Homo sapiens: one gene and its partners. The protein of the gene in region 1 purifies or fractionates together with the protein of each later gene. This does not show direct contact. Each region holds a gene or a part of one and is shown in the gene's direction. Other genes may lie near its edges.

Region 1 (2,880 bases):
CAGTGTCTGCAGTGGAGCTCTTTTCCATATTCCCCATCTCTTGCACCCACACAGAATGCCAAGAAAGCTGTGGGAGAGGAAGAGGGGGAGGAGGAAGAGAAGGAAGAAGTGGGGAAGAGGAGAGCAGTGATGTGCTGGAGCCAGCTCTTACTACTTGCAGGAACCGATTACTAAATTTTCCAGAATTTTGCAAGTCAGTTGTTAAACACAGCCATTATGAAAAATTAAATTATATAAACTCACAATTAAATATATTATATTGAAAACAAATGTAATAATTATTCAAAAATCATCATTTTCAATTAGTTTACTATATTTCACTATTAATCGTGCCCTTGAAGTTATTTCTGTCCATGGTGTCTGTATGGGGGAAACTCTAGATAATGGTGTGCTACTGGGCATCTCTTCCAGCTCCTCATTCAGTGACATCATATCGGTGGTTTAAAATGGGCCATGGTAGGGGTATTTACACTACAGAAATTGGTAAACACTACAAATTGGGATTTCCTTTTTTGAGAGCTGACTGTAAAATGTTTGCCTGCATACCACTGAGGAGAAAGAATAGCTACTTAAACCAGCTCCCCCTACCTGCACACCATCCTACTGGGGCTGAGGTAGGTAAGATTTCTATAGGGCATTCCTTCATTTCCTGCTCTTCTGAGGCCAGGGCCTCCTGTTAGATTTGGAGGGAGCCATTCATAAGGATGGAGAACTGACACGAATCTTCACCCAGATGCGCTTCTTGTAGCACTTACCTACTCCCTGGCTCGCTGGCCAGTCTCTTGAGCGTGGTTGGCTCAGCCAGCTGGGCTGGTTCCTGGCTACTGGGGTTTCCATCCTTCCCATTCGCTCCTACATGTTCGACCACCAGAGGGCAGCCTTGTGCAAAGATAAATAAAAATAGCAATTACTCACCTTCTGCCTTTTGGATCCTGGGCAGGGGCTACTATGCTGGAAGGATGGGAGGAAGGGCAACTATCATGTAGCCAGTGATTTGTTCCTTGAGTTAGAAGGGAGAGGAGGAGATGCCACCCTTCTCCTGACCGTTATAAGGAGGCTTTGGGCAAGGGGTATGTGATGGACGGGCTCTTGGCCTCAGGCCTCATGCTAAGGCATGAGAGAGGGATGAGGCAGGGAATTCACTTACTCACGCAGGAGGATCTTATGGAGCACCCACTGCTACGTGGTGATAAGATGGTACGCAACAGAAACATATTCCTTTTCCTCAGAGAGCTTAGAATTTAGTGCAAAAGACAGGTGTGAAACAAATAAGCACACCAATAACCATGCTATTCAACTCATAAAAGTGCTGTAAAGGGTATGTAGAGAATGCTATGAATGCTTACAAGAGGAGGACCCAACTTAGGGGTCCAGAAGATCTTGCACAACTGATGTTTAAGCTGAAACCCAAAGGAGTGGGAGTTAGCCAGGCAATGAGTTGCCAAGGCAACTATTCAAGGTCCCTGGTGGTCCCCGAGTCTGGAGGGACAGGTGTTTCTTGTGGGCCACGTGGAAAGGAATCCATGTATCTGCCTCCCCCCACCTCACTGTGCACTTGGATCCTCACGGCGGTCCTGTAAACAGCCAAGTCAGAAATTATTATTCACATTCTTCAGATGGAGAGATGGAGAACTAGAGACCAATCACTGACCCCAGTTCACACGGGTGACTCAGGGTTGGACCAGGACTCAACACACAGGCTACAGACTGGCAGTGGGAAGTCTTGAAGGTGGTGGGAGGTGACTTCATGCCGTCATGGTACCTACCCTCACTCCCAGGGAATCTAGGATTCCAGCGCACCTGGCCCCAGGGAAGGACGGGGAAGGCAGTGAGCCAAGGGCCCCTTGACTTTCAGAGCAGCAGAGCTGTCACTGGCCCTTCCTCTCCTTTGCCTCCTCTTTCTGTCTTCCAAGAGTTTGTTACAGCGGAATCTCTCTCTCTGTGTGTGTCTCTCTCTCTCTCAGAGTGTGTGTGTGTGTGTGTGTTTTCTGTCTCTCTCTCCCTTTCTCTGTTTCATCCACCAATCCTATCCCCTTCCATATCCAATATCCCGTTCCATATCCTGCTTTATTGGATTATGACAAGGCCTAGGCATGCAACAGCTGAAAGCCTAAAGTTCTCCAAATGCAAGAGATCCTGGATTGAGGAATCCAATTTTCTTTTTTCTTTTTTTTTTTTTTTTGAGATGGAGTTTCACTCTTGTTGCCCAGGGGGGAGTGCAATGGCGTGATCTTGGCTCACCACAACCTCTGCCTCCCGGATTCAAGCAATTCTCCTGCCTCAGCCTCCTGAGTAGCTGGGATTACAGGCATGCGCCACCACACCTGGCTAATTTTGTACTTTAAGTAGAGACAGGGTTTCTCCATGTTGGTCAGGCTGGTCTCGAACTCCTGACCTCGGGTGATCTGCCCGCCTCGGCCTCCCGAAGTGTTGGAATTACAGGTGTGAGCCACCACTCCTGGCCGAGGAATCCAATTTTTTCAAAAATCTAATTAAAAAAAAAAAAGGTTTTCCAGAACTGGGGCTTTTGGGTACTGGAAGCCACATCATTCCCACATGCCTCTCGGTTACTCTTTGCTGAATACAGAAAGTCACCTGGCTCCTGCTCTATTGTGGGACAGGAGATCTAACAATCCCTGGACTCCTGGAGTTTGCCAGACCTATAATAGAAGCTTTTCTGTGCATCAACTCATTTAATTCCAGCAAAAACCCTAGTGAGTAGGGATGCTCATCTTCAGACTGCAGATGAAGAAACAGGCTTCTGAAAGGGGAGAGGCCCAAACCCAAACAGCAAGAGAGTGGCAGAGCTAGGATTCAATCCGGGGTCCATCCAGCCAGAGTCTGAAGTCCTGCTCTCTGCCACACTCCAATGCAGACACC
Region 2 (3,500 bases), on another chromosome or scaffold:
AACACCCGACTTCTTGGATCTATTATTAACAGCTCACCAAACATTACATGTTCACCCACCACCCTTAAGCCATTCACTTTCAAAGGCAAGGGAATCGCCTTTGTTCATTTCCTCAGGACAGTCAAGTGTATGGATAATCTCCTAGCATGGTGGTTAAAAGCATAGAATTTTCTAGGTGCCAGTCACTGTGTTTGCCTCAGGGGTTACACTGTGGAGGAAATACATGAAAATCCCTGCTTTTATGTAGCTTAGTTTAAAGGAAGAGACAGACTTTAGTCAAATAATCCCTCAAATAGAATGAATCATTATGAAACAAGGTGAGCACTCTGCAGGAAGGAATATGCTGCTGCAAAAACACTTAGTAAAGGAAACCGACCTAGTCTTGGGGTGTTAGAGATTTTCACTGGAGGAATTCTGCTGGAGCTGAGATCTGAAGGGTGAGTAGGAGTTCTCCATATGGGGGTTGAGGAACCTAGCAGGGGCACTGCAAACAGTGGGAACAGCATGCCCACAGCCTCATGGCCGAATGGAGGATCAAAGTCTCCATTCAACTGAGTAAAAAATAGAGCAAATAGCATCAAGGGGATATACGCTACCCAGGATGCATTTGGTTGAATATTTTTATTTAAAAATTACTTGTTCTAGCATTATATCCAAGAATGACACACACGCCACCAGAACTGGTTGAGAAACTTATTGAGAAACTCACCAGTGGGAAAATAGTTTTCAAGAATATTCAATATTTATGTCTCAACTCCAGTGAATGAATAACAGCTCAGTATTGAAGAAAAATAAAATTTCTTTTTTGACTGAGAAAACGGTTTTGGCTCTCAAGGTAATAAGTGACATACAGTTGAAGAATGATTGTCTAACTTCCTTTCACAGAGAAGCCTTCCAGGAGAATCGGAAGAAATGATGGTAAGTTGACTTGATGTTGTTACAGATTGAATGATTTTCCTGTTAATAATTACCAGGAAATCAATCTGGGTGTCTCTTTTTTCTTCATCACCGAGTATTTACCTGACTTTCGAAATACTGCCTTGCCCAACTGTTTGCAAGTGTTTCTAAAATTCAGCATTGAAGAGTGCAGTCTTTACAGACAGGAGAGAGGCCACCAAGAGCTGAAGGGGCCCTTCTCTTCATTTTCTTGAGTTTTGCCATATATCATAGGTTCCTTCCCACTGTATAAATTTATGTATTTATTCCTACTCAACCTTTTTGATTTATGTATTTATTTTTACGTTTTCATTTTTATTTTTATTTTTTTGAGACAGAGTTTCACTTTTGTTGCCCAGGCTGGAGTGCAATGGCATGATCTCAGCTCACTGCAACCTCTGCCCCCTGGGTTCAAGAGATTCTCTGCCTCAGCCTCTCAAGTAGCTGGGATTACAGGCATATGTCTCCTCGCCCAGCTAATTTTTGTGTTTTTAGTAGAGATGGGGTTTCACCATGTTGGCCAGGCTGGTCTCGAACTCCTGACCTCGGGTGATCCACCTCCCTCAGCCTCCCAAAGTGCTGGGATTACAGGCATGAGCCATTGCTTCCAGCACCATTTTGATTTAAAGTATGACACCTGACAGCTTTGGAAAATAAAAGAGTGCCCGTGGAAAGGAACTTTTAAACACAAAACGGCCCAGTTCCCTGAGATGTTCAGAGTAGACCATCCTGTGGCAAGAAAACAGCCTGAGGACAAGTGGCTTATGTTGTGCTTCCTGCCCTGAATTGGCAGAAACTGCCAGAAGTGCACACTTCAGGGGGAGGAAGGACACATAGATTAGCCTGGATTTTATTTTAGCTTGAGGTGAGTTGCATGGTTAATTAGTCGAAAGGTTTAATGTTGGACTACAAAGTTTGGGGAATGAGACCTGGTATTGAGATAAGTAAATTCTTTTGGAGAAAAAAGCAAAATCTAATGGGTCTCATAGTTGTCCATAGACCTGAAGGAGCTTGCAGCTCTCAGTCACCTCCTGAAAGGTGTGGGTTTCTAGGACCTTGCCTTTGAGCACACTTACATATGTGATTCTTCACACAGGAGCTGCTTTAAATCAGTAGTGATCGGGTAAGGAGGTCCAGAGTGTTGGACCAATACTTGCATCAGAATGCCCTGTCCAAGATCAATGTCTCTTGCTTACACCCGTCACTGTTCTCCTAGCTTGTTTTGACTTGGGGGAGGAGAAAAGGACTGCAGATGAAATTGTAATAGAGGAGATTAAAGAAGGTAGAGAGCTGTAAGGGGGGGTTGGTGGAGGCCATATGTGTGTTTCCACCCCACAGCACCCCTGTGTGACCCCTACTAAAGATACAACCAAGTTCCTCTTTCAACCTCGCAATCCAGTATCCTCTCCCCAGCTGATGGTCTTGCATTTGGAGTTATTACCTGGACTTCCTCAATCCAATCTGGCTTCCCACACCGTTTTCTACTTGTATTCTAATTTTTGAAAAATCATTATTTATAGACTCATAGGGCTGAAAAATGCCTTTTAGCTCAAAGTATCTTGAAACCAAGGCAGACTTCTGCTCATTGCGGGTTCCAAGAAGTTAGGAGAATGCTTAACCATACATGAATTCTGTCCTTACCAAGGCCCTGGAATTGTTCTGCTAGTAAAACAAGTAAAATGTAGTGTTGTTAACATCAAATGCACTACATTTGATGAAGTTCTGTGTGATTTTTCTATCAGTACAGTTATGCTTTCTTGCCAATTTCAGGAAGAGGTTGATCAAGTAACTCTTTATAGCTATAAAGTCCAGTCTACTATTACTTCTCGGATGGCCACCACCATGATCCAGAGCAAAGTGGTGAACAATTCCCCGCAGCCTCAGAATGTCGTGTTTGATGTTCAGATCCCCAAAGGAGCATTCATTTCCAACTTCTCCATGTGAGTAACTTCTGTGTAGAGCCAGAAATTGTAGGTGCTCTACTCACAGAATCAAAACCCCTCATAGTTAGAATGGACTTTAGTGGTCAACTGTCCCAGAGGACCGGCTGGATGTCAAGGGTCATTGTGAGGTTGGTCCCAATAATTTTCTCCTCTTCAAAGCGTTAGAACTTGTGAATTATTTGCTTTTTGTTTCTAATAAGCTAAAGCAAACTTAAGGCTATCTCTGTGGTAACAACCTCATACTTACTTGCATTTTAATATACTTTCTAGGGAGGAGAAAAATATACTGGGTTGCCCTGGCTTATAGGAAACCACATAAGAGCGTGTGCACAGCAGGTCAATGCCATCTGCCATATGTTTCTCTATGGGAAAAAAAAAACAAGTTGAGAACCACAGATTAAATCTAATTACTTATCCAGTGCTTGACCTCCTCTATAACACCGCTGACAAGTGTGTGATGATTTCCTTGATGATAAACTCACTTTTCCCAAGGCAATCAACTCAGTGATTGACAGCTCTGTTAAGAGTCCTTTCTTATACTTCAAATATTTTCCACTTTCTACCCAATGACTCTAGTGATAATCACATAGAATTTTTAAAAAGCTCTCTACAAAATACATA
Region 3 (3,732 bases), on another chromosome or scaffold:
CATATACTGTTTGAGAGTTGCTCATCTTTATGGTGGGGGGTGTATTTTAGTCCTAAATCTTGCTTCTTAGGGCAAGTTCTGTTTCTTCCATGTTCCTTCCTGGTGTAATACCTCAGGCAGTTTTCACTTTTATGATCATTTAACATTAAGTTCCCATCACATGTGGCATCCCACTGAAGGAACCTCCTGGCCTTGGTACCTAATTTGAAGCTTGGGCTGTGGAAAACATCATCAGTGAGCATGTTTGAAGTAGGACAGAGTCTGGCTGGAGAAACAGGTAGTGGGGGAGCTGGGAGCTAAACTTGAGAGGATGCCTCTTTCTTGATAGTTACTGTGCTAGGTGAGTTATGAGCACACTAATCCTTTAATCCTCACACCTCTGAGAACAGTGAGGGTGAAGCTGGAGGTCATTCTGGATTGTTTCAGTGGCTGTCACACAAATTCAAATTGAGGGGTAGAGGAACTAGGAAGCGTGGGTGTGGAGTTAAAACTAGGTCCTCTGGATGGCTTTTGTGAGAAGAACCAAGGAATATTCTTAAATCCCTGGGCTTTTCTCCTAATCTTTCTGCTGCTTTCTAAGTAGATTGTTAACATTGTGTGTGTTATCATTCAGCATTCTGAGAACTAGCTTTCCAGCAATAAATAGCTTTCAAGGTGTCCTTTGCCTTAACTTTTTCATTTTACTAAATGGTGCAGCCTTGTCCACATTCTGTCCGGGTCTTCACCATCTGGTTGTTTTTCCGGCTTGGTTTGATAGTTTGCAGCAGTCAGTGGTAAACATTGTGTTCCCTGTTCTGTAATGGTGGCTGGTTGTGTTCACCGAGCCAGGTGTCACTAAGGCCCAGTTGCACTTGGGAGCAAAGAAGGGCCCTGAGGTGAGTCCTGGAAGTAAAAATATGTATAACCTAGGGCTGATGAGGCTTGTTTCACTGCTGGGCTTAGCTGACAAGAGCCTGGGACTTGCTGCAGCTCTCAGAGCTGAAACCTGGCGGTGATTCTAGGCAGGCTGGTTGGCCTTCCAGATCTTGGTTTATTCAGTGGCTAAAAGAGGTTTGGTCAAAATTATCAGTATTCAGATTATGGTCCTGGGAGCCTTGGAGTTAGACCAAACGTGCCCAGGGGCCACTGGAGTGATGTGTTTGGGCTGGGGAGCACAGCTCAATGGGTAGTACATGTCAAAGACTTAAGGGGAAAAAAAACAACTCACTGTTCATCTCAAGTTCTTAGCTCTAAGGTGTGCTACTGTTCTAAATATTTTTTATTTTTAAAGATAGCTTTATTTGCCTAAATTTGTCCTGGGTGTGGGGAGTTTAGAGCTGCCTTGTCTGTAGGGTAGCTGCTAGCTGTGTGACTAATTAAACTTTTCAAAGTATTTTTAAAAAAATTTCTTAGTGACATTAGCCACATTTCAGGTTCTCAGTGGCCTCGTGTAGCTAGTGGCTGCCGTCCTGGTCAGTACAGGTCAAGAACATTTTCCATAATCGAAGAAAGTTTTGTTGGACAGCGCCGGCCTAGAAAGTTTTTTTTTCTCCAACTCTAAAAGCTTAATTGTCTCAACTTGTAAATCTCTAAAGCATAACATGTTTGAGCTTAGTCTTCCAGAGTCCATAAACCCAACAGCTTTGGTGACAAATTATCTACTGGTTGTCTCCATGGCATACTACAAGTGAGTTCTAGTCTGCCAGTTGGGAGTGGACGAACAGTTTTGAAACAGTTTGAGTGAGGACCTTCAGAAAGGACCTGGGGACAGGAGCGTGAAGCAAAGGTCCAGATGCTAAGCCCTTAGAAAGCCCTTTTGGTTTGAAGCCGTTTATTATCATAAAGATCCCTGCTGGTTTGTCCTTGGTCTCCAAATGTCAGATGTCAACATATTGTTACTTGGTCCTTCACCCACCTGATGACTTCCTACAGATCTCAGTGCGGCCCTTCTCTTAAACGAGGTTGTGTTTTCATTCTGCTGTTTCCAGTCCACCTAAATGTTAGGGGCCATTCTTCACAGAAGGTGTTGGGGGAGAGTGGGGCCACAGCGTGGATGCTAACGTGTTCTGTTGTGGCAGGGGTGGGGAGTTCTTTGTTTCCAGATGCCCCCTCTTCTAGTCCTGGGTGTGCTTTGTTTGAACCCTGCTAGATTGACCTTTGGTATATATAATGTGAGATCTCTTTTCTTGGAGCCAGGCAGCATAAAGGACACTTACTGATGAGCACCTACTGGCATATTAGTGGCTTTTTTTTTTCTGTGTCATTTTTATTCTCTGTCAGCCCTATGAGGTTAGTACAGTGATTAGTTTGTGGGTGAAGAAACAAGATCCGAGTAGAGTAAACTGGTCCCTGGACACAGCAAGGGCTGGACTGGCTTGGACCTGGGCTGGGGCGTGCTCCCCACCTCCTCCTCTGCCCCTGCCGCCCCCCATGCTCATTGGTTGTTGCTTATTTACTGCCCCTTTATCACCACATCCTCATTCAGGAAACTAAACTGGGTTTTACAAAGATTAAAATCATTGATCCCACATATGGAGTCTGACTTAAGTGTGTTCAGCCTCGTTACAACTCTGTGAGGGAGATATTCCCTATTACAGAACATCTTCATTTTATGGGAAACTGAAGTACAGGATCCTACTCTTAACTCTCTTGTCTTTCCAAAGCCATATTTTATCATCAGAATTATGCAACCATCGGGTGCTTTTGAAATGCACAAGTAATGACTATGAATAAAAAAAGCTGTGCCTGAGGGCTCAGGGAAACTGCTCTGAAGACTGAGCTGATTGAAAAAGACAATCCTGAAGTCACTAATTTCCCGACACCTGTCAGACCTCACTTGGAGGTCACAGACCATCTCCTGGCCCTCCAAAGGCTGTCACCCAGCAGTAGCTGGCCTCCTGATTAGAGGAGGCAGTAAGATCTTTTCAAGCACAGCCCCAGCCCCCATCCCTTCTCTGGCCTGGGCCTGGATGTGCCTTTGTGAGGTTGGGTCGATGACAGATCTGAAGGACAGTTCAGTCTTCTGTACACTCCTTCTTGCCCCTCCTTTCTGCCACTCCCAAGAAAAAGGAGCAGGAGTGATTCTCACTTTCCTGAACTGCCTTGGAGGGAGACCCACACTCAGCTGTGCCTTTAGCTGTCTCTGGGAGAAAAGGCCGTGCTGCAAATAACCTCCCTGCTTTGTCCTTTGGCTTTGGTGTGGCTCACCTGGCCAAGCATGTGCTGGTGCTATTTTTAGCAGGTGGCATCCTTTAGGAGGGCCAAGTGCATGTGGCTGCAGTGTACGGGACAGGTCCTGGTGCCAAAGCTGCTGCTGTCTCTGCTGCCACCGCCTCGTCAGGAGAGAGAGGAGAATAAAGCCACCCTGGAAGCTGCCAAGGGGTGTGTGGAGGGGGTGGCTGCTTAAGAGGTCTCCAGGGCTGCCTTTTCTATTCTGGATCTGTGGCAGGGGCCCAGCCTGCCTCCTGGTGCAGGCAGGCATGTGACTGAGGCAGCCCGGGGAGCTGGGGAGCTGGGGAGCTAGGTGTCAGACTGCTGCCTGGGGAGTGAGGACCCCTTGTTGCCCCAGCAGGCAATTTTTCAGGAAACCACATAACCCCATTAAAAACATTATTTATTTATTTATTTATTTATTTAGAGATGAGGTCTTGCTTTGTCACCCAGGCTAGAGTACAGTGGCTCGATCATAGCTCACTGCTGCCTTGAATTCCTGGGTTCAAGGGATCCTCCTGCCTCAGCCTCCCAAGTACCCGG

The links.
Region 2: the proteins of OPTC (region 1) and ITIH2 purify together in Homo sapiens (affinity purification with mass spectrometry; one large-scale study listed by BioGRID and IntAct). This does not show direct contact.
Region 3: the proteins of OPTC (region 1) and AKAP1 purify together in Homo sapiens (affinity purification with mass spectrometry; one large-scale study listed by BioGRID and IntAct). This does not show direct contact.

The regions. Positions count from the first base shown.
Region 1 is NC_000001.11:203,503,987-203,506,866, forward strand, and holds part of OPTC (opticin precursor), read left to right. Parts: exon of another isoform or gene 1-67; intron 68-292; exon of another isoform or gene 293-2,880. UniProt on the Homo sapiens protein: Inhibits angiogenesis in the vitreous humor of the eye, and therefore represses neovascularization. Binds collagen fibrils.
Region 2 is NC_000010.11:7,706,316-7,709,815, forward strand, and holds part of ITIH2 (inter-alpha-trypsin inhibitor heavy chain H2 precursor), read left to right. Parts: intron 1-885; coding exon 886-918; intron 919-2,706; coding exon 2,707-2,876; intron 2,877-3,500. UniProt on the Homo sapiens protein: May act as a carrier of hyaluronan in serum or as a binding protein between hyaluronan and other matrix protein, including those on cell surfaces in tissues to regulate the localization, synthesis and degradation of hyaluronan which are essential to cells undergoing biological processes.
Region 3 is NC_000017.11:57,088,092-57,091,823, forward strand, and holds part of AKAP1 (A-kinase anchor protein 1, mitochondrial precursor), read left to right. Parts: intron 1-3,732.